3 separate regions of the Homo sapiens genome follow, and regions 2 and 3 are each linked to region 1. The links come from fine-mapping of genetic effects on gene expression. A gene starts in region 1. Each other region holds a variant in brackets. All regions are shown on one strand. Distances are from middle to middle. Region 1 holds the start of MAT2A (methionine adenosyltransferase 2A). Region 2 has its middle 41 kb from the start of PARTICL. Region 3 has its middle 25 kb from the start of PARTICL.

Evidence for each region. PIP is the estimated chance that this variant, and not a neighbour inherited with it, causes the effect.
Region 2: its variant is fine-mapped to the expression of MAT2A in whole blood (INTERVAL, PIP 0.96).
Region 3: its variant is fine-mapped to the expression of MAT2A in whole blood (TOPMed, PIP above 0.99). The same link has a PIP of 0.9 or more in blood mononuclear cells.

Annotation. Positions count from the first base shown.
Region 1 is chr2:85,536,414-85,543,457 of GRCh38, reverse strand. MAT2A (methionine adenosyltransferase 2A) reads right to left here and starts at 4,290. Exons shown (of 9, transcript NM_005911.6): 1 at 4,080-4,290; 2 at 2,298-2,375; 3 at 2,081-2,203; 4 at 1,713-1,825; 5 at 1,486-1,629; 6 at 1,085-1,303; 7 at 711-893; 8 at 424-557. The coding sequence starts at 4,170. It overlaps PARTICL (promoter of MAT2A antisense radiation-induced circulating long non-coding RNA), which reads left to right and starts at 4,572. Exons shown (of 1, transcript NR_038942.1): 1 at 4,572-5,991. RefSeq lists silencers at 3,703-4,032, 4,213-4,482 and enhancers at 4,513-4,602, 4,673-4,882, 5,283-5,372.
Region 2 is chr2:85,494,238-85,501,281 of GRCh38, reverse strand. No RefSeq gene overlaps it. Among named protein-coding and RNA genes, the nearest start is that of PARTICL, 41 kb to the left of the region's middle. The variant C/T (reference allele first, on the strand shown) is at 3,051.
Region 3 is chr2:85,510,734-85,517,777 of GRCh38, reverse strand. No RefSeq gene overlaps it. Among named protein-coding and RNA genes, the nearest start is that of PARTICL, 25 kb to the left of the region's middle. RefSeq lists a silencer at 4,251-4,430. The variant G/A (reference allele first, on the strand shown) is at 3,869.

The DNA of each region.
Region 1 (7,044 bases):
AAATACGAAAACTTGTCATTATTCTGAGAAATTTCAATTGTCAAAAAGCTCACCTGAGATCACACAATACTTACCAAGGTCCCGCCGCCCACACCCTACCATGGTTTTTACATTGCAACAAACCTTGAGCAACCCACTTTATCTCTATTTTCTTAACACCCTTAAGTAGAAGAGCACAAAGCTCAAATATCAAATCTGGAACATTCTCTAGAGTGGTTAGCCTAAGCCATGGAGCACCGTAATTTTAAATTTCTCAAATAACTAAGTCTTCACTAAGGCAGCAGTTCAAAACTGTTCCAGGAATTAAAATATATTCCCATTTGAGGAGTCTTCCTTCACACCTTCACCTCCTCAGCCTTAAGTATATACACACACACCCAACACCCTCAATACTTGACTAGCAACAGGCTTTACCATCTTTACCTGACAATGACCCCAGGGCGGAGATCGAAATTCTTCTTCACAATCTCTAATAGCTCTCTCTCACTCTTCTGAGAGGTACCATAATGGAAAATGGAGATAGATAATGGATGAGAAACTCCAATAGCATAAGAGACCTAAAAGGATTCAAATGTCGTAAGAATCAGTGATTGCAAAGACCCATATACTTGTATAATACGTTGGTATAAAACAAGTAGTTAAGTAGATTACTACTAAATACCCTCCCACTTACATGACTTTTAATCGTTCGTTATATAAAGAGTGTATACCTGAACAAGAACCCTCCGGCACAGACCTCCTTTAACAAGGGATTTTGCCACCCAACGAGCAGCATAAGCAGCTGAACGGTCGACCTTGGTATAATCCTTTCCTGAAAAGGCACCTCCTCCATGAGCACCCCAACCGCCATAAGTGTCCACAATGATTTTGCGTCCAGTCAAACCAGCATCACCCTGAAATTACAGGATTTAAGTTACTTTACGCCTAGTGCTTTCCAAGTGGATTAGGTTGCCTATTCTGAATTCATTCAGCAAATATCCTCCGATGATTCACATGTAGGTTTCAGAAAGCCTGAAAAAAATGTAGTAGCCAAAATTTTAAGTAACCATCAAAAATCCAGAAAAATGCAACAAAATGACATTACCTGAGGCCCACCAATAACAAATCTGCCACTTGGCTGTAGGTGGTAGATTGTATCCTCATCAAGGTATTTCGCAGGCACAACTGCTTTGATGACTTTCTCCTTTAGGGCATCCCTCATTTCATCAAGACAAACCTCTTCATCATGCTGAACAGATATAACAATTGTGTGGACTCTGATGGGAAGCACAGCACCTCGATCCTGCATATACTGCACAGTAACCTTGAAGGCAACACAGGTCATCAGAACATCACACCAAACAATAACTTTGTATTTGTTTCTCTACCTGAAGTTACAATATAGGAAAACAAATGCTATTTTTTCCAGTTAGCTATTATCAAAATTATGGATCTTCTGTGCTGATGTAATAAATGAGACAACCAAGCTTTATGATCATCACTTACTTGAGTTTTAGAATCAGGGCGTAACCAAGGCAAAGTGCCATTACGGCGTAGTTCTGCCAGTTTGGCATTTAGCTTGTGTGCCAAGACAATGGTTAAAGGCATACACTCCTCAGTTTCATCAGTGGCATAGCCAAACATTAAGCCCTAAAGAAAGAAAAGTCACCAATGTGATCAAGCTCCAGAATTTAATGTTAGAAGAGATTAAAACAGCCTCTACACCAAGATACCTGGTCTCCAGCACCAATGTCTTCTTCATTTCTGTCAAGATGAACACCTTGAGCAATATCTGGTGACTGTTGCTCCAAGGCTACCAGCACGTTACAAGTCTTGTAGTCAAAACCTATAAGCAAAAAACACAACATCTTGTTTACGTCCTAGAAATACCTGCTGTTTACAGCAATTATCTGGAATTCTAAACACTGCTGAAGAAATCAAATATACCTAAACCATCGGACCTTTTAGAGAATGAACAGAATAGGGCTTAGTGTATAGTAAGATACAACTGGAGTTTAGGATTAGCAGGAACATTCTAGGAGTTTCTTCAAACCTCACAGCTGTTACCTAGAAAAAAATGAGCAAAATCATTAAAACACACCTTTGGAAGAATCATCATATCCAATGTGTTTAACAGCTTCACGAACCACTTTCTGGTAGTCAACAGCAGCTCTGGATGTAATTTCCCCAGCAAGAAGGATCATTCCAGTTTTAGCAACAGTTTCTAATAAAAAGAGACATTCAACTCAAACATCACTTCTATAAAAATAATTTTTATGCTATCTTTCCACCAGTTGATAAGCACATTCTGAACCTACCACAAGCTACTTTGGCATCAGGATCCTGCTGAAGGTGGGCATCAAGGACAGCATCACTGATTTGGTCACAAATCTTATCTGGAAAAGAGAAATTCCTGGCTCAGTTTCTTTAACTTTAAACAAAGTATGTATGTATGTATGCAAGCTCCCTCCCTGTTACTATCTGTAAAATCTTTGGAGATTTTAAAAAACATGCTTAATACATCTTAATTCATTGTGTTTGCACTTTCCTCCTAAAATTCAAAGTTTGCATTATAAATCTAATCACCAGAAAGGTGAACTGTTAGTCCTATATCCTTTAAAGAACAGAATTTGCCCTATATCATATTCACTTCCACAACTGTACCAAACCCCTCTGCACCTGGGAGTCTGGTAGAACTGAGGCCACAGGTAGGCCAGTTTCCCTAATCTTAAGGAACACCAATTATAATGAGCAACAAGATAATTCGATTAAACAATTAAATGAAAAGCATTTTCTGACTAAAATGGCAATTATCTGATTTTGCTGTTAGGAGTTGCGCAGGAAACAAAAGCTCAACAGTGTAGAAGATGCTCAAACGTATTCCGAATCCATGTCTCCCTGCTTTGTCATCTATTGTTAGGAGGGAGAACAAATATCTCCCTAATTCAAGTTCGTTTTTCTGAATTTTCTATAACCGCCTAAAACAGAATCCAAACATAATGTGGAAGCCAGACTGCAGGCTCTGAACTTCGGTCTACTACTAACTGGTGTAACAGCTAACCTTCAGCACTCATCAAGATCCTGGGTTTGTCCTCTCATACCACTAAGTTACTTGTGGGATTTCATCATGGGCACAGTAAACTGACCAGACCCTAAAGCCACCAGATAGATAACTACTGCGGTCATCCTAAGGGCAGAAACAGCCAAAAGAGCCAAATAATCATCTTTACTAGCCGATATGCTCAGGCTGAGATTTTCAGTTCCTGGAAATATAGCTTTACTCCTCCTTCACGTGCCAATTGATCCCCATAATGGCGGTTGAGCGGACAAAGCCTCAAGTAAAACCCTGCACCGAAGACTTTAAATGCGAACCCAAAGCAATGGCAGCTCCTAATTCATGCTTCCCATCCTTTTCACAAGGGGTCCAAATAAGGACTGCCTTCTTGGACATGAGCTATATTTAGTCAGAGGCCGTCACCTTGGAGGCAAGGCCATATCCGCCGAAGGGCATGTGCGTATTCTCCAGTGTGTAGTCAAGACCTAACCACTGAGGCAGTGGAGCCAGACGACGTCCCAAGGCATAGGCCCCCCACCCCTCAAACTGAGGGCCAGGACAGCCGGGGAGGCTCACGGCTCCCCCTCGCCCAGATACCACATGCGGCAAACACGTGGTCGCCGCTGCAATGCGGGGCGCGCGCTCCCGAGGGCCGGACGCGAGCACGCGGGGCGGGTCGCCCACTCCAGGTTTGTCAGACGGCAGGGCCGGGAGGGGTTAACAGTGCCCTCCCTTCCCGGCCAGAACTCACTAGCGACCACAGCCCCCGCCCTTCACGTTTTCTGGAACCTTCCGCATGCCTAGGCGCGCGACCGAATGAAAAGGGAGGGGGGAAGGGAAGGGTGGAGAGGGGAGGGGGAAGAGGAGCGGCGGCCACGCGCCAGGCCCTGGCGGCGCCACGAGGAAAGCGCGCGGTCGCCGCTCTTCCATCACCCGGCGGACGAGGACGACCCGCGCGGGCCCCACCACCGGCCGGCCGCAGCCAGCCGGACCTTGGCGCTGCCTTCTGCCCCGCCCCACGCTTCGCTTCAGGCCGTCCCCTCACCTGGGTGGCCTTCCCCGACCGACTCTGAGGTGAAAAGGAATGTGCCCTCCTCGATGAACGCCTCGTGGAAGCCGTTGAGCTGTCCGTTCATGTTGGTGTCGGTGTGCGGAAGTGGCCTTACGAAGGAGCAGCGGCGAGGCGGCAGCGGCTGCGAAATGCGCAAGCTGCGGACAGCGTTCTACTCGTAGCAGGCGGGCGGCGCGGAGCGAACGAAGCAGCGGGCGGTGCGGCCCGGTATTTATAGAGCAGCGCCCGCGCGCGCCCGGCTCGGGCCCCGCCCCTCGGCGCCGCGCGCCAATGCACCACTTGCGCGGGGGTCGGGGGAGGAAGGGCAGCTCGCCCCGCGGAGTCCGGGCTGAACCACACTGCGCGGCCGCGGGAGGTGCCGTGGCAATCCGGCCCTCCAGAGACCGTTCAGCTATCTTGAGCCGCTAGAGCTAGGAGAAAAATGCAGACGCGAGGAGACGTGGGGGATTGCTCTTCCTTGTTTGATGTGGGAGAAAAAGCGACTGGGGCTTGCTGGACCCGCTCCCCTGTGCGGTGACATGGCACCTCCCTTCCGACCGTTGGCCGGGATAGCTTTCCCGGAGGTCGCGTCCCCCAGCGGAGGCGGCGGGAATCGCGGAGGTTTTGTGCTGCGGCTGGGGTCTTTCTGGCCGTCCCGCCTCTAGATGCCGGGTGGCAGGGAGCCGGTGGCGGTCGGCCATGTGAAGGTGGCCATCTTGGCCGGCCAGCGAGGGCTCCTCACGGCCTTCCTTCGGCGTCCCTGCCCGGCTCGTTGCCGGCCCCGGGATATCTGAGGGGCGCAGGCCCACCTTCTAGTCGTTTCCTGGTGAATGGCTCTGCTGAAGATGGCCGGAAAGCAGATTAATGAAGGTGCTGCCATCGATTTAAACAATCGCCCTCCTGCCCGCTCCCCTGCGCTAAAGTTTCTGAGGGATCCTCACCCTTCGTGGTTCGTGGACTTAAAAGTGGAGGCAGCGCTCCAGCCTTTCCCTCCAGAGAGAAAGGAGGCCGCTCCCAAGTCCGTCCTTGCCCCGTGGCCTTCCTGTTCCTTTGAAGGGGGGGGGAATCGATGTTTCAATCCTCTGTTCAGGAGAATATGGAACGAACATTTCTTTTTTGGTGGGTGGGGGCTATTCGTTCCCTTGAATGTGCTTAAGCAGATCTCTTGACGGCGTGGAATGGGCTGTTTCATGAAGCTTTCACTTTAAAATGTCCACCTGCGTTTGTCCCAGTTTTGCCCAATAAAGGAATTACAGGGAAAAAGAGCGAAACAAAACTTGAGCCAGCAAGGAGTATGGAGTCCCGTTTGGAGGGAGCCCGCCTTGGGGGCGGGGGTCTCTGCAGCCTGTTCTGGGGCTGGGCCTCGGTGCAGGTCTGGTCGGGCTGGTGGCCTGGTGGCCCTGAGCGGAGCGCGTGACAAGAACGCCGGGTTTAATGAGGTTCTCAGGGAACGGCCTGCTCCTAGCATGGGATGTACTTTACGCTGGGGAGGTGAAGGAGACCCCTAGTAACAGTCTCCAGCTGCCTACTGCTGGCGGCAGTAGAACAAGGTGCATTCCCAAGAACAATCCTCTCCGTCGGTGCAGGAGGAAAGGTGGGATTTGCTAAAGGCTCAGTGGGAAACAAAGGAAGCACTTGGGCTGTGCTGGGGGCATCCACAAAGAAGATAAAGGGCTCCTCCCCAGACTCAGTGACCACATCCACGGTCGCTCAAAGCAGGCAGCAAGAAAAGGTTCGACCACAAAAGAGACAATAGGTGATGATATTTTTATTCGTTGCTTTTTACTTTTCAAGCTAACCCTTCATGGGAAAGTAACTGTATAAGACTATTAAATTTTTTTGTTATTTTTTAAAGGAGAATGCCAATTTATTAACTTACAATGTGTAATAAAATTGTCAACTGGAACAAAATGCGTGTGTAGGCTGGTCAGTGCATTATCTCCCAGCAGAAAAATCTATATGGGAAGCCAGAATATAACTAGAAGGTTATTTTATTAGGGAGTCAGAACAAGGAGCGTAAAGTCAATGATTGGCTCATTAAATCCTGATACCCCTGTGCTACCAACTCCACAGTGGGGCTAGGCCTGCCAAGGAGATGAGATTTAGCTGTACATAGTTGCTTACCTACTTCTCTCACTTGTGAATAGTGTGTAGGTGTAATACAGTAAGAGTAGGGGTTTGGAGTCACGACCTCTCTATGCATCAGTATCCTCGTTCTGTAAAATTGGAATATTAATAGTACATCATAGGATTGTTTCAAGGATTCAAATAGTGCAAGTAGAGTCTTTAGCACAGTATCTAGTACATAATTTGTTTTAATGTAAGCTGTAAAAAAATTAACTATATTTGCTGTGAATTACTTTTCAGTGGCTTTCAATTGCTGTCGGGATACGGACTAAAATCTCTACATACTCAAGGCCCCAGTGTGATTTGGCTGCTACTTCTGCAACCTTACCTTGTGCCACACTCTCCTTTCTGTGTTCTACTTGGATTTTTTAGTTAGTAGCAGTTAATTTTATTAATTTCATAGTATCAAAACAAAGGAGGACACATTTTCATTTATTTTATATTATTCGTATTGTCCCTTCCTCCCTTCCACAAATATTTATGAGCACATCTGTGAGTCAGACCCAGGAGCAAATGCTATAACAATCCTGGTCTCTGCCCACTCGGCGCTCTAAATGTGGGGAGATGCCTGGCTAACTCCTTATCCTTCTCACTCCAGCTCAGCTACCACTTCCTGGATGAAGCCTTCATCTACACAGATTTGTCACAGGGGCCTGTGTTTTATTTCATGGCACTAAGTGCAGTTTCAAATTATAGATTTGGTGATTATTTGATGAATGTCTCCAATTCCCAGTTAGGCTTGTAAGCTCCATGATAATGAGAAGGTGGGCTGTTTTGCTCAAGCTTTGTTACTGAATGCCTGGCACACACAAGGTGCTTAGAAATGTTCAAG
Region 2 (7,044 bases), 42 kb after region 1:
TCAGCTCCCATCAGGCAGCCTCTATGGGGTTTCAGATCCCACCAGATGGCCCCCACTCTGGGCTCTAGCTGCACTACCTCCTCCTACGTAACTCCCTGTATAGTAGCGTCTTGTGCTTCCATTAGACTTCTCAGTCCTTCCATTTCCAGTGCTGCCAATTCCCTGTATTAAATTCCTTCTGCCAGAGAGACCTAGAAGACTCTGTTTCCCTGGGTGGACCCTTACTTGTACCCAGACAATATGGCTGCAGAGCCCACAATCTTAACCTTTTCAGGTGAGAAAATAGACACAGACTTATATAACTTGCTCTAGGTTGCAAAACTAAAGTATAAAACAACCAAGAAAAATTTGGAAAATCAGAAAAACAAGAGGATGTCCTTTTAGATATCAAAAGATACCTTGAAGCTATAAGAATAAAAACAATGTGGTGCTGACCCTGAATCAGTGGAATAAATCAATGGAACAGAATCCAATTCAGAAACAACTATGGGAATAGAAGAATATTTTCTTCTTAAAGGGGGCATTTCAAAGAAGTGGAGAAATGCTATTAGAGGGATTAAGCCATTAATTTGGGGGAGAGTCCCAGAATAAATTTCAAATGGATTGAAGAGTTAAGCAACATGAAAGTACCAGAAATAAATAAAGAAGAACTAAGTCTTGGGATTAGGAAACTTCTTTCCAAGCAAGACTGAAAAACCAAAAGCCATAAAGGATAAAGCTGACAAATGTATAATTTACATGACAATTTAAAATGTTTGGTAGAGGAAAGAACCCAAAGCTCTAAAGAAATCTGTGCCTAGCTGGCTTTGTTTGAGATCTCCACTGTCCTCTGAAAATGGGGAAGGAAACTGAGACCGATTTCTTGGGTGCTCTTGCTGTTACTGCAATTCTAGCCCTTCCCCCAGCTCGAGGCACAAGGAGACGCTTCACAAAGCGAGAACCTGCCTGCTCCTTCATGCACAGTTTTCATTCGGTGCTAAAGCTGCAAAAATGAGATAAGCTGAAGCCAAAAGGTATTTGGAAAGTGGAGATGAATAGGTCAGGAACTCTGTACTCTTTTTAAAGAACGTTATCTATTTGGCCTACTTATTCTTTGGTCATGAGTGCTTGAGGGAAGGCAAGGACGACAGGACAAAGAAGACTGGGAATAACTGAAAACCTGGGCCTCAAAAGCAGTAGGGGAGAGGTGATATCTCCAGAGCAGCAGGACAGGCGAATGGAGCATTTGGTTCTCAATTCGTTTATATTAGTAAGTATGAGACCTTTCCTCTTACACGTTTTGTTTTTGTTTTATTTTTTCAGATAGAGTCTTGCTTTGTTGCCCAGGCTGGAGTGCAATGGCACGATCTCGGCTCACTGCAACCTCCTCCTCTTGGGTTCAAGTGATTCTCCTGCCTCAGCCTCCCAAGTAGCTGGGATTACAGGCGCCTGCCACCACGCCTGGCTAATTTTTGTATTTTTAATAGAGATGGGGTTTCTCCATGCTGGTCAGGCTGGTCTCAAACTCCTGACCTCAGGTGATCCACTCGCCTTGGCCTCCCAAAGTGCTGGGATTATAGGCATGAGCCACGGCGCCCAGCCTCTTACACATGTTAAAAGAAAATTTTATTTATTTTTTTGAGACAGAGTCTCCCTCTGTCGCCCAGGCTGGAGTGGAGTGGCGCGATCTCGGCTCACTGCAACCCCCGCCTCCCGGGTTCAAGTGTTTCTCTTGCCTCAGCCTCCTAAGTAGCTGGAATTACAGGCACCACCACCATATCCAGCTGATTTTTGTATTTTTAGTAGAGACAGGGTTTCACCATGTTGGCCAGGCTGGTCTTGAACTTCTGACCTCAGGTGATCCACCCGCCTGGGATTACAGGCATGAGCCACCATGCCCAGCCAGAAAAATTTTAGACATATTAAAGTTAACAGAGTTTAATTGAGCAAAGAATGATTCATGAATCCGGTAACTCCCTGAACCAGAGGGACTCTGATGCTGCCATGTGGTCAGAGAGGAATTTATGGACAGGAAAAGGAAAATGGGCTGGGCGTGGTGACTCACGCCTCTAATCCCTGCACTTTGGCAGGCCAAGGAGAGCGGATCATTTGAGCCCAGGAGTTCAAGACCAGCTTGGGCAGTATGTTGAAACCCTGTCTCTACAAAAAAATACAAAAATTAGCCAGGCGTGGTGGTGTGCACCTATAGTTCTGGCTAATCAGGAGGGTGAGGTGGGAGGATGACTCGAGGCCAGGAGGTGGTGGTTGCAGTGAGCCACGATCATCCCACTGCACTCCAGTCTGGGGGATGATAGAGCAGGACTTGGTCTCAAACAAAACAAAACAAAACAAAAACAAAAAAAGGAAAATGACATACAGAAAATGGAAGTCAGGCTGGGCGTGGTGGCTTATGCCTGTAATCCCAGCAGTTTGGGAGGCCAAGGTGGGTGGATCACTTGAGGTCGGGAGTTTGAGACCAGGCTGGCCAGATGGTGAAACCCCTTCTCTACTAAAAATACAAAAATTAGCCGGGTGTGGTGGCGCACATCTGTAATCCCAGCTACTCAGGAGGCCAAGGCAAGAGAATCTCTTGAACCTGGGAGGTGGAGGTTGCAGTGAGCCAAGATTGCACCACTGCTCTCCAGCCTGGACAACAGAGTAAGATTTCGTCTCGAAATAGATAAATAAGTAAATAAATAAAATTAAAAAAGAAAATGGAAGTGATGTATAGAAATAGCCATATTGGTTACAGATCGGTGTTTATTTTATTTGAACATAGTTTGAACAGTTGACCACCTGTGATTTGCTAAAACTCAGTGATTGGTACTGTCTGTTTACACATCCAGTTAGGTTACAGTTTAATATGTTTACAGACTAAACTTAAAATATGTAAGCAGGCAGCTTTAGGCTAAACTTAATTGAACAATTTCTTCCTTTTAGTCAACCTCTTAAAATGAAGAGGTTGACCAAACTTTATGTATTGCTGTCACTTTGTCACCATAGCAAATAGACTTACTTGGTTTCAAATCCCACTGAGAAATAGTGGAACACTGTGTTTTATAAGGTGGAAA[C/T]GAGGAATTTAGATTCCCTTTTTGTAAAGGGTAGAGCAGAGACGACTTCCTTATTATACTATAATCCCCTCTTTTCTGGAGAAAAAAAATCTGGTCTCTTTGGGGATCCATATGCTTCCTTAAAGTTTTAGTTTGATTGTGCTGCATTTAGCATGAGTTGACTCCATTTGGTTAGATCCAATCTAGTCTGTTGGGGCCTAGTGCATGAGTTCAGTCCAAAACAATGGCCTCCCATAATTTTGTTGAACAATTCTCCCCTTTTGATCATGTTGTCACTTAAGTGAGAGTGTGACCAAAACATCGCTAATTGCTACTCTCAGTTATGATCATTTTGGGTTTCTGGTCTCAACATGTCTTTCATAGGTTATAGTGTCCTCATGATTATGTATTTCTTTGAGATTTTGTCATCCCAGTTGAAGAGAGACCATTTGACATTCTATGCATGGCTGCATTAAACATTTACAATTTTTGAGAGGATATATTTCACCAGGGAGATGACTATTATGACTACCAGAAGGACAATACCAAGAGTTTGGAGTATGCTGCTTAGCCAGGGTCCCCATGAACTGAACCAACTAAAATTAAATAGATTAAAGAATAAGCTTGATAAATGGTCTACGAGTTTCGACCAAGCAGCCAGTTTTTTAATCCCCTGCAAATGAATCTCTATAGTACCTGACATATTCATCCATGTGCAACAAGAAGTGTCAGCAATTGGCTGGGCATGGTGGCTTACACCTATAACCCAGCACTTTGGGAGGCCCAGGCAAGAGGATTGTTTGAGCCCAGGAGTTCGAAACCAGCTCGGGCAACGTAGTGAGATCCTGTCTCTCTCTCTCTCCTCTCTCTCTCTCTCTCTCTCTCTCTCTCTCTCTCTCTCTCTCTCTCTGTGTGTGTGTGTGTGTGTGTGTATGTATATATATATATATATATGTAGTCAGCAACTGCACAGATTCTTCTCTGTTCAGCCAGTAAGTAGCCTAGAGCAGTTCTATTATGTAGCACAACTTTAGCAAAAAGTTTAAAGAAGTCTTTAGCATAGTGTTTATAGTTGAATCTGCTATAGAGTCTACTATGAGGGACAAATTTCTAATCATTGCCTCATTTACCCCAAATCATGGAAAAAGCAACCTAACGAATTATGCCCATTCAGAAGGGTGAAGGCCTCCTGGCAACGTTTGCTTCAACCTATAATGTAGGTTAAAAGAAATAGACCAATGTTCTGTTTCTGACTGATTATGGAGCTACAAAGGTACCGTGAAAATTCCTCACCCACTTTGGCCCTTCATCTTCTATCCATCAAGGCATAAGGTTGCTCATGCATAAGGTTAGCGGTGAAATCCTCCACAAATAAAAGTATACCCCATGGGTCCACACAAGACTTTTTCTAGTTCTAGTCTTCATAAAGGCATAAGCGAGGAAAAAATTAAGAGAGGTAAGAGTCTCATGATGGCAAAGAAGTCTTGATCTGTCATCTTGAGAAAGCTTTCCACATCTAGGATTCCATCTGCTTCTGGTGAGAAACTTCCCTGGTTAGCTTTATCTTGAGGTCTCCAACAGATATACAGTTCTAAGAGTCTGGAGGGGCCCTTCTGAGTTGTGAGATTACAGACCCAAGGTTCAAAGTCCTAAAGTTTTGCTGCAGTGTGGGTGGCAAGGTGTGTTGTTTCTAGAAGACCCAATCTCTATGTTCTTGATCATGAAGGATTTAATTGTCCTCAGTCAGTGGATCATGAAAACCTTCCTTACCTGGTGAAAATGCACTTTGGCATAATGCATTAAAGCCACAGTTAGCCATATCAAAGTTTAGGAGCAGAAGATACATGAGTTTTTGTTTTGTTTTGTTTTGTTTGTGTGTGTGTGTGGTTTTATTGTGTGTGTGACAGAGTCTCGCTCTGTCACCCAGGCTGGAGTGCAGTGGCTCAGTCTTAGCTCACTGCAACCTCCACATCCCGGGTTCACGGGATTCTCCTGCCTCAGCCTCTCGAGCAGCTGGGATTACAGACATGCACCACCATGCCTGGCTAATTTTTGTATTTTTGTAGAGACGGGGTTTCACCATGTTAGCCAGACTGGCTTGGAACTCCTGACCTCAGGTGATCCACCCGCCTCGGCCTCCCAAAGTGCTGGGGTTACAGGCGTGAGCCACAGCGCCTAGTCATGAGTTTCTATTATTAGGGGCATAGGCCTTCCAGTGACTGTTTTATAAAGGGTCAACTGATGTTTTCTGCTGAAAGTGGATCTAATTGTCATCAATCTGCAATACCTTTGACCAAGACAATCCAGTTGATTTACTTAGCTTTGCCTAGTACTATTTTGTCTGTAGTTTCTTATTTAACTGTTTTACAATTTGTTCAATGAAACAAATACATTTATCACTGGAGATTTCTCCAGGAATGCCCCCTGAAAAAAACACACTTCCTAATAAACTTTTAGCTACTGTTATATCATCAGACTTCTTTCGTGGGAAAGCTTCTATACAACCAGAAAATATGCATTCCGAATGACAATTGAATGAACTCCCTCTATAAATGTTCAAATGGCCAATCAGGTAGCAGAAGTGTACCTGAAGTTTTTATTGTTTCCCCAGGATTATGGATTTGACAAACTAAGCATTGGTCAAAAACCATTTTAGCAATTTAAAACGGTCACACCACACACACACACACACACACACACACATTTTCTATTTGGATCATTTAATCTCTACCATAATGTGTCATGGAGTACAGAGCTTCTAAGAGTGGAAGCTTTAAGGATTCAGGAAGGATGAGGCAGCTGTCCAGGCTCTCCATGAGTTTATGCTTAACATTGGATGTATATCTTCTTCAATACCAATTTTGTTTTTCCAATTCAGGTGAATAGTACTGTTTAATAACTGGGTTGGCCTGGTGCAGTGGCTCACACCTGTAATCCCAGCACTTTGGGAGGCCAAGACAGATGGATCTTTGAGTTCACAGATCAAGACCAGCCTGGGCAACATGGTGAAACCCCATCTCTACAAAAAATACAAAAACCAGCCAGGTGTGGTGGTGCATGTCTGTAGTCTCAGCTACTTGCGGGGCTTAGGTGGGGGATGGGGAAGGGGTGGCGAAGGAGGTTACAGTGAAACGAGATTGCACCACTGCACTCCAGCCTGGGTGATAGAGCCAGACCTTGTCTCAAAATAAATAAATAGGTAAAAACTGGGTTATCACAGGTAATCTGACTTGGACCATGGAGTTCATTCAAACTGCATATCCTAACAATTTCAGTACTGGCTGATTTAGCATGAAAATCTGGCAATGGCCGGTCATGGTGGCTCACACCTGTAATCCCATCACTTTGGGAATCTGAGGCGGGCAGATCACTTGAGTCCAGGAGTTCAAGACCAGCATGGGCAACATGGTAAAATCCTGTCTCTACAAAAAAATACAAAAATTAGCTGGGCATGGTGGCACATGCCTGTCGTCCCAGCTACTTAGGAAGCAGAGGTTTCAATGAGCCGAGATCATGCTATTGCACTCCAGCCTGGGTGACAGAATGAGACTCTGTCTTTAAAAAAAAAAAGATGTGCTTGTCAGGGTCCTTTATATTCTTTCCATGAACCTCCTTGAAGACACAACACTCTATGATTTTACTTGCTCGTAAAGAGCTTTCAGAAAATGCATCAGAATTAAGTAATTAACTGTGGAAACAATTTAAAATCGTCATAGTTAAAGACCCAATTGACAAGGAAATTTGGTTATTTCTGTGGACTGTAATAATTTAACATAATAGCCATAACTGTGACTTATACCAAGACATATCAGAATTTTAGGAATCTCATACAGTCTTATTTTGTTTTTGTTTGTTTGTTTGTTTGTTTTTGAGACTAAGTTTTGCTCTTGTTGCCCAGGCTGGAGTGCAATGGTGCGATCTTGGCTCACTGAAACCTCCATCTCCCAGGTTCAAGCTATTCTCCTGCCTCAGCCTCCCTAGTAGCTGGGATTACAGGTGCCCGCCACCATGCTCA
Region 3 (7,044 bases), 26 kb after region 1:
CAGACACATCCAGCCTGTCTTGGCCTCCACAGCTTCATTTTCTTTTTGTTTCTTTTTTTTTTTTTTTTTTCTTTGAGACGGAGTCTCTCTGTTGCCCAGGCTGGAGGGCAGCCGCATGATCTCGGCTCACTGCAACCTCCGCCTCCTGGATTCAAGCGATTCTTCTGCCTCAGCCTTCGGAGTAGCTGAGATTACAGGGACGCGCCAGCATGCCCCGCTAATTTTTGTATTTTTAGTAGTGACAAGATTTTACCATATTGGCCAGGCTGGTCTTGAACTCCTGACCTCAGGTTATCCACCCATCTCAGCCTCCCAAAGTGCTGGGATTACAGGCGTGAGCCATCATGCCCTGCCACAGCTGCACTTTGGGCATCTCCCTGCCCAGAACCCACCACTCTGCTGTTTCCAGGTCCCAACCACCTTTCAGGGCCTCTTCTCATCTAAACCTTCTCTGACTACCTTGGCCTTTGTGCATCTCCCCTTCCTCTTGACTTCTGTCCTGGCCCAGAAAATACAGGTCATTCTGTGCAGGCTGCCCAACTGGATTGCCAGGCCCCAGAGGGCAGGGATGATGGCGATCAGGTGGTGCAGGCCCTTCCACATCTTCTTTGCCTGTAGGTGTTGCCTTTCAGGACATGATGGTGAACATGATCATGCAGGAAAAATAAATAAATGAAAAACAAACATTAATACAAGAATCATTCTCTCTTTTTCTATTGCAGATTAGGCCCTCCTTCTGTCTCCCCCGACCCTCGCCCCCCCACCCCCAATCTGCTACAAAATATCCAGTATAACTCCTTTATCCTTTCGTGTGTAAAATAAGGAAGCTAAATTCTAGAGAATAGAGAAGTTGAAAAAGTAAACTAATACATTTCCTTTAATGACTCAGCCCAGGAAAGGTAAGCAAACAACTTGGACTTCAGACAGAGGTCGATAGCTGCTGATGGAGGTGATCCAGGCACTTCCGAGGCTGTGCAGGAAGGGCCAAAGCCGGTGCCTGGGAGAGCCGGATAGGTTTCTGCTGCTAAACCAAGTCTGCAGGGTGAGTTGATAAAGGAATGCTGATTCCCAAAGAAACTAAGGGTGCCAGATGGGACCTCTGTCACCATCTCTGAAATACCAGTGGGTTAATATTGCATAAGCACGAATGCTTTTTAAAAAATGCACATACACACACATATATATGTCTATACAATATATTTTTTTGTAGCTGGAGTGTGAGGAGTGGGAATCTGTGGTTGTGAATCCATAGGGTGCTGAGCAGAGTCCCCATATGATTTGGGACCTGTAGTGCCACGACACTCACCTCACAATAGCACAAGCTTCTTGCTCTGAAGGGTAGATAAACGATGTTTAAAGGGAGAGCATTGCTTGATTTTACACCTTTGTTTTAAAAAAATATGATAAAGGGAGAACAAATATTATTGTGGGAAGGACTTTTCTGTGAGAGGAGTAAAACCACCCATCCTGGGCTACACCGCAAGTATCTAGTTGTCTTTAAAGGAGTGAAAAAAAATCTGCTTCGTGTTATTTTTTTCCCCTATATTCTTGCCCCTTCATCCTGCCTATCTCTGCAAAACCTATTCCGCCCCCCACCGCCCTTTTTTTTTTTTTTTTTGTAAACAGAGACTGGCTTTGTCGCCCAGGCTGGAGTGCAGTGGCACTATTTCAGGCCACTGCAACCTCTGCCTCCTGGATTCGAGCGATTCTCCTGCCTCAGCCTCCTGAGTAGCTGGGACTACAGGCGCACACCACCACACCCAGCTAATTTTTGTATTTTTAGTAGAGATGGGGTTTCACCATGTTGGCCAGTCTGGTCTCGAACTCCTGACCTCAGGTGATCCACCCCCCGCCTCAGTCTCCCAAAGTGCTGGGATTACAGGCTGAGCAAACTTGCCTGGTCTTACCTTGGTATTGTTTTGCTAAAAAATGCACAGTAGTCTTCTATTTCTTAATGCATTGAATGCAAACTTTATCAAGCTTGACTTTGAAGACCTGGGCAGCCCACCCAGTCCTAACTTCCTAGGGTCATTTGCCCCACCCCACAACCAGCCTTCCCCCTGCACAGGTGCCATGTCCTGTCTCGGACCCAGGCTCCACTTGAGGCTCAGCCTCTCCCTTGCATCCTGAAAAGCTTTTTGTGTGAACTGCACTAATTTTCCTCATGTTACACCGAGCTCCCTAGCTATAGAGTAAAGTCCTTGAAGGCAAGACCTTTGTCTTACTCGCCCCTGAGCTCACTTCTGTGTCTGGACCGTAGCCAACATAGCATGGCTGAAACCTCTTAAAAGCTAGGTCAGGGTGGCTCATGCCTATAATCCCAGCACTTTGGGAGGTCGAGGTGAGCGGATCACCTGAGGTCAGGAGTTCGAGACCAGCCTGGCCAACATGGTGAAACCTCATCTCTACGAAAAATACAAAAATTAGCTGGGTGTGGTAGCGCACACCAGTAGTCTCAGCTACTCAGGAGGATGAGGCAGGAGAATCGCTTGAACCCAAGAGGCGGAGGTTGCAGTGAGCGAAGATCTCGCCACTGCACTCCAGTCTAGATGACAGAGTGAGACTCGGTTCTTAAAAAAAAAAAAATTGCTAGGTCAATTCAATTGGGACTTCTGGCCCTCTGCCTGGTCCCCTCACTGTCTTCCTCAAAGACTTAGGGCCATTCCCCTGTGAATCTCAAATCAGGGCAGCCCTCAGTGCCTCCTCTCCATATCTTAATCAGATACGAATAATCAGAGATGACAGTATTTAAAGAAGCCTTGGGGGATCAATTACAAATAGCCCAATTTCAGTTACAAAGGACTTTCACTTTGATCTAATATTTAAGTGAGAGACTCTCACCTGAATACAGACCTGATAAAAAACATTAGAAGGATTAAATGCTTTGCTTAAGGTCACACAGAATGCATCAAAACTTGCACTTAAAGTGGGGACCTATCTTTTAAATCTAGCAATATATTTTTTCCAGCACCATATCTTGGTAGCCAATGGTGATAACAAAGCTGTTTTTGTTTTTCTAAAATGAAAAATATACTAATGTCTTTATTTAGAGTTTTTCTAATAAAATACAAATCATTACTACCCTGTTGGGTACAACATATTAAAAATGTTTTTATCTTAGCTGTCTTATCTGCCTGGGTTTGGGATAGATTTTAGGATTTAATATTATTGGGTCACGTAATATCATTATGTTTATCAGAGTGAAATCTAGTTTAGCCTTTTGCGTACTCAATAAAAACCATCGTGAATTTTAGAAAAACTGCTCAGAGTTCATATTTGAGCAGTTGCGTATTGGCAGCAGCATCTTGATATAAAAGACAACTTGTTATTTTTACGCATTCTGGAATTGTGAAACTTAGAAAGCACATTATGTTTTTTTTTTTAAAGATTATGTTTGTTTAGTGCTTTATATCTATTATAATCCTTATGAAAGCCCCGTGAAGCAAGTGTGTAAGAACTGGCATTTTAGGCTGGGCACGGTGGCTCATGCCTGTAATCCCAGCACTTTGGGAGGCCAAGGTGGGCAGATCACTTGAGGTCAGGAGTTCAAGAGCAGCCTGGCCTACATGGTGAAACCCCGTCTCTACTAAAAATACAAAAATTAGCCGGGCATGGTGGCAGGTGCCTGTAATCCCAGCTACTGGGGAGGCTGAGGCCAGAGAATCACTTGAACCTGGAGGGTGGAGGTTGCAGTGAGCCGAGATCTTGCCACTGCACTCCAGCCTGGGTCACAGAGCGAGACTCCATCTCAAAAAAACCCAAAAATAATAAAAATAAAAATAAAATTTTAAAAAATAAAAAAATTAAAAATAAATAAAGATGAAGAAACCAAAGCCACGGGGCCTAAGTGGTGTGACCAGGGTCACTG[G/A]ACTCATTGGTGGCTGCATTGGTCAGGGTCTTGGCAAGAAACAGAGGGCACACTCCAGTTGGGTAATTTCAGCAGAACCTAATAAAGGAACTCTTTACAAAAATAGGGGCAGGGTGCAGGGAAGCCACAGGGACAGTGTGTTGTTGTGGGGAGCTACATAGGCTTGCCATGGAGGGAGGAAGGAGGGCCAGGTCACCAGAACTGGAGAGGCCTGCAGTGTCAGTGCACAGAGACCTCCTAGGTCTAAGAACTCAGGATAATTAACACCCAACCCCTCTGTCCTCCCTCCTTCTGATCCCCTAAAGGAGACCCTCGTTGGCCTTATTGGAAGCCAGAGGGCAAGGGAGCCTGCTGAGGTTTCTACACAGGTCAGTCTCCTGGGCACTGAAGAGAGAGAGTAGGGAGTGGCTCCCGGATGGAGTAGGCAACAGAAGATATCCAGCACAGAGGTGAATCCATGAGTAAACCTCAGACTTCCTTTAAAAAAATAATAGTAGGGCCGGGCGTGGTGGCTCATGCCTGTAATCCCAGCACTTTGGGAGGCCGAGGCAGGTGGATCACCTGAGGTCAGGAGTTCGAGGCCAGCCTGGCCAACGTATAGTGAAACCCCGTCTCTACTAAAAAATACAAAAATTAGCTGGGCATGGTGGTGCACGCCTGTAGTCCCAGCTACTTGGGAAACCAAGGCTGGAGAATCACTTGAACCCGGGAGGCAGAGGTTACAGTGAGCTGAGATCATACCACTTTACCCCATCCTGGGCGACAGAGTGAGACTCTAACAAAGCAAAACAAAACAAAATAAAAAATAATAGGTCAGGCATGGTGGCTCATGCCTGTAATCTCAACAATTTGAAAGGCCGAGGCAGGCGGATCACTTGAGGCCAGGTGTTCGAGACCAGCCTAGGCAACATAGCGAAAGCTCGACTCTACTAAAAATACAAAAATTAGCCAGGCATGGTGGCACATGCATGTCATCCTAGCTACTTGGGAGGCTGAGGCACAAGAATCACTTGAACCCGGGGATAGAGGCTGCAGTGAGCCAAGATCATGCTACTGCACTCCAGCATGGGTGACAGAGGAAGACTCGGTCTCAAAATAATAATAATAATATGATAATAATGAATAGATAATTATGTGAGGTGATGAATATGTTAATGGTCTTGATTGTGATTGTTTCATAATGTATACCTATATCAAAACATTAAGTTGGACCAGCATGATGGTTGATGCCTGCAATCCCAGCACTTTTCAAGGCTGAGGTGGGAGGATCACTTGAGCCTAGGATTTCGAGACCAGCCTGGGCAACATAGTAAGACCTCATCTCTACAAAAAATCAAAAAATAGCCAGGTGTGGGGCATGCACCTATAGTCCCAGCTACTTGGGAGGCTGAGGCAGGAGGATCACTTGAGCCTGGGAGGTGGAGTTTGCAGTGTAACCGAGATTGTGCCACTGCAGTCAGCCTGGGCAGCAGAGAGAGGCCCTGTCTCTAAAAAAATGAAAAACAGGGGCTGGGCACAGTGGCTTATGCCTGTAATCCCAGCACTTTGGGAGGCAGAGGTGGGTGGATCACCTGAGGTCAGGAGTTTGAGACCAACCTGGCCAATGTGGTGAAACCCCATCTCTACTAAAAATACAAAAATTAGCCGGGTGTGGTGGCAGGCGCCTGTAATCCCAGCTATTCGGGAGGCTGAGGCACAAGAATTGGTGGAATCCGGGAGGCAGACGTTGCAGTGAGCCAAGATCGCGCCATTGCACTCCAGCCTGGGCAACAAGAGCAAAACTCTGTCTCAAAACAAAATAAAAGAAAAAAAAAAAAAACAACCCCACCCCCTCCAAAAAAAAAAAACCGTTAAGTTGTACACCTTAAATATGTACAGTTGTTATTTGCCAGTTATACTGAAATAAAGCTGAAAAAAAAAACTGATCTCGGACTTCTTGTCCCTTGATCCTATGCTCTTTCCATAACACTGTGCCTGAGACACATAACACTGTGCCTGAGTCCTAGCTCCTAGCACAGAATTTCAGAGAAGTTCCCTTCAGGACCACCCTTTGGCCCACAACATCCCTCAACATTAAACTTTAAGCTCGTTTTCTAAAGCGTTCTGTGAATATTAGCCTCTATGGAAGGATCCCATAGGATCCTTTTTTGACAGCGATCCCATGGGAGCTATAAATCAGACTGGGTCAGGCAGTGGCCTGTGGGCTAGGCCAAGATGGCAGGGCTGGCAGGTTGAGAAAGGTCCCCTGAAGTCATCACTGGTTCTTGGCCATCATCACATCTTGGCAGAGATCCTCAGAGCCTTTAATGCAGCTGTAGTGGGCATTAGCCACGAGGCTGGCAAAGTTTCAAGAATAAAAGAATCCATTTTACTATCTTTTGCATCTGGCAATTAAAGGACCTTGAACAAAAGACTTCATCTCACAGCACTGTTGATAACTCTACGGTTTGCACTTGGCTACCCTGGCTTTATTTTTATATAATCCCTCTGGCATGAGACTCCAGGTTTTATAGAAAGTAAACATCTCGGGGGTGTTGGAGCTTTCTACCTTGGATGCGTTCTTTATTCACCTTTATCCTTGGTTCTCTGAGGGCTAAAGTCATAAAAAGTTTGATGACAGTGACCTCTTCCAAACCCAAGAGCTATGAGAGCAGTGTACTGAGAAATGCAAAGCCCAATGTTCTCATGGAACACAAACTCACCCAGAGGTCACAGAGAAAAAATTCTCAGTTCCTGTTCTGGCAGAATCATTTCCAAAGAAATGAAACCATGGTCACATCCAGCTTTTATGGTCTGAGTGGTCATATTCCTGAAAGAAGCATAACTACTAGAATCTAAGGTGACTTCACTACAAGGTTAATACATTCACTCCCCCAACTCCTCACCCAAATAAGGCCTTATGCACTGTGCATTTTCCCCCACTGCTGGGGGAGGTTTTTCTAAATTTCACTCATAAGCAGTTTACCTGGTACCACTGGAATTGATCAAAGAGGCACAGAGTTGGCCGGGCGTGGTGGCTCACGCCTGTAATCCCAGCACTTTGGGAGGCCGAGGTGGGCGGATCACGAGGTCGAGAGATCGAGACCATCCTGGCCAACATGGTGAAGTGCTGTAATCCCAGCACTTTGGGAGGCCGAGGTGGGTGGATCACCTGAGGTCAGGAGTTTGAGACAAGA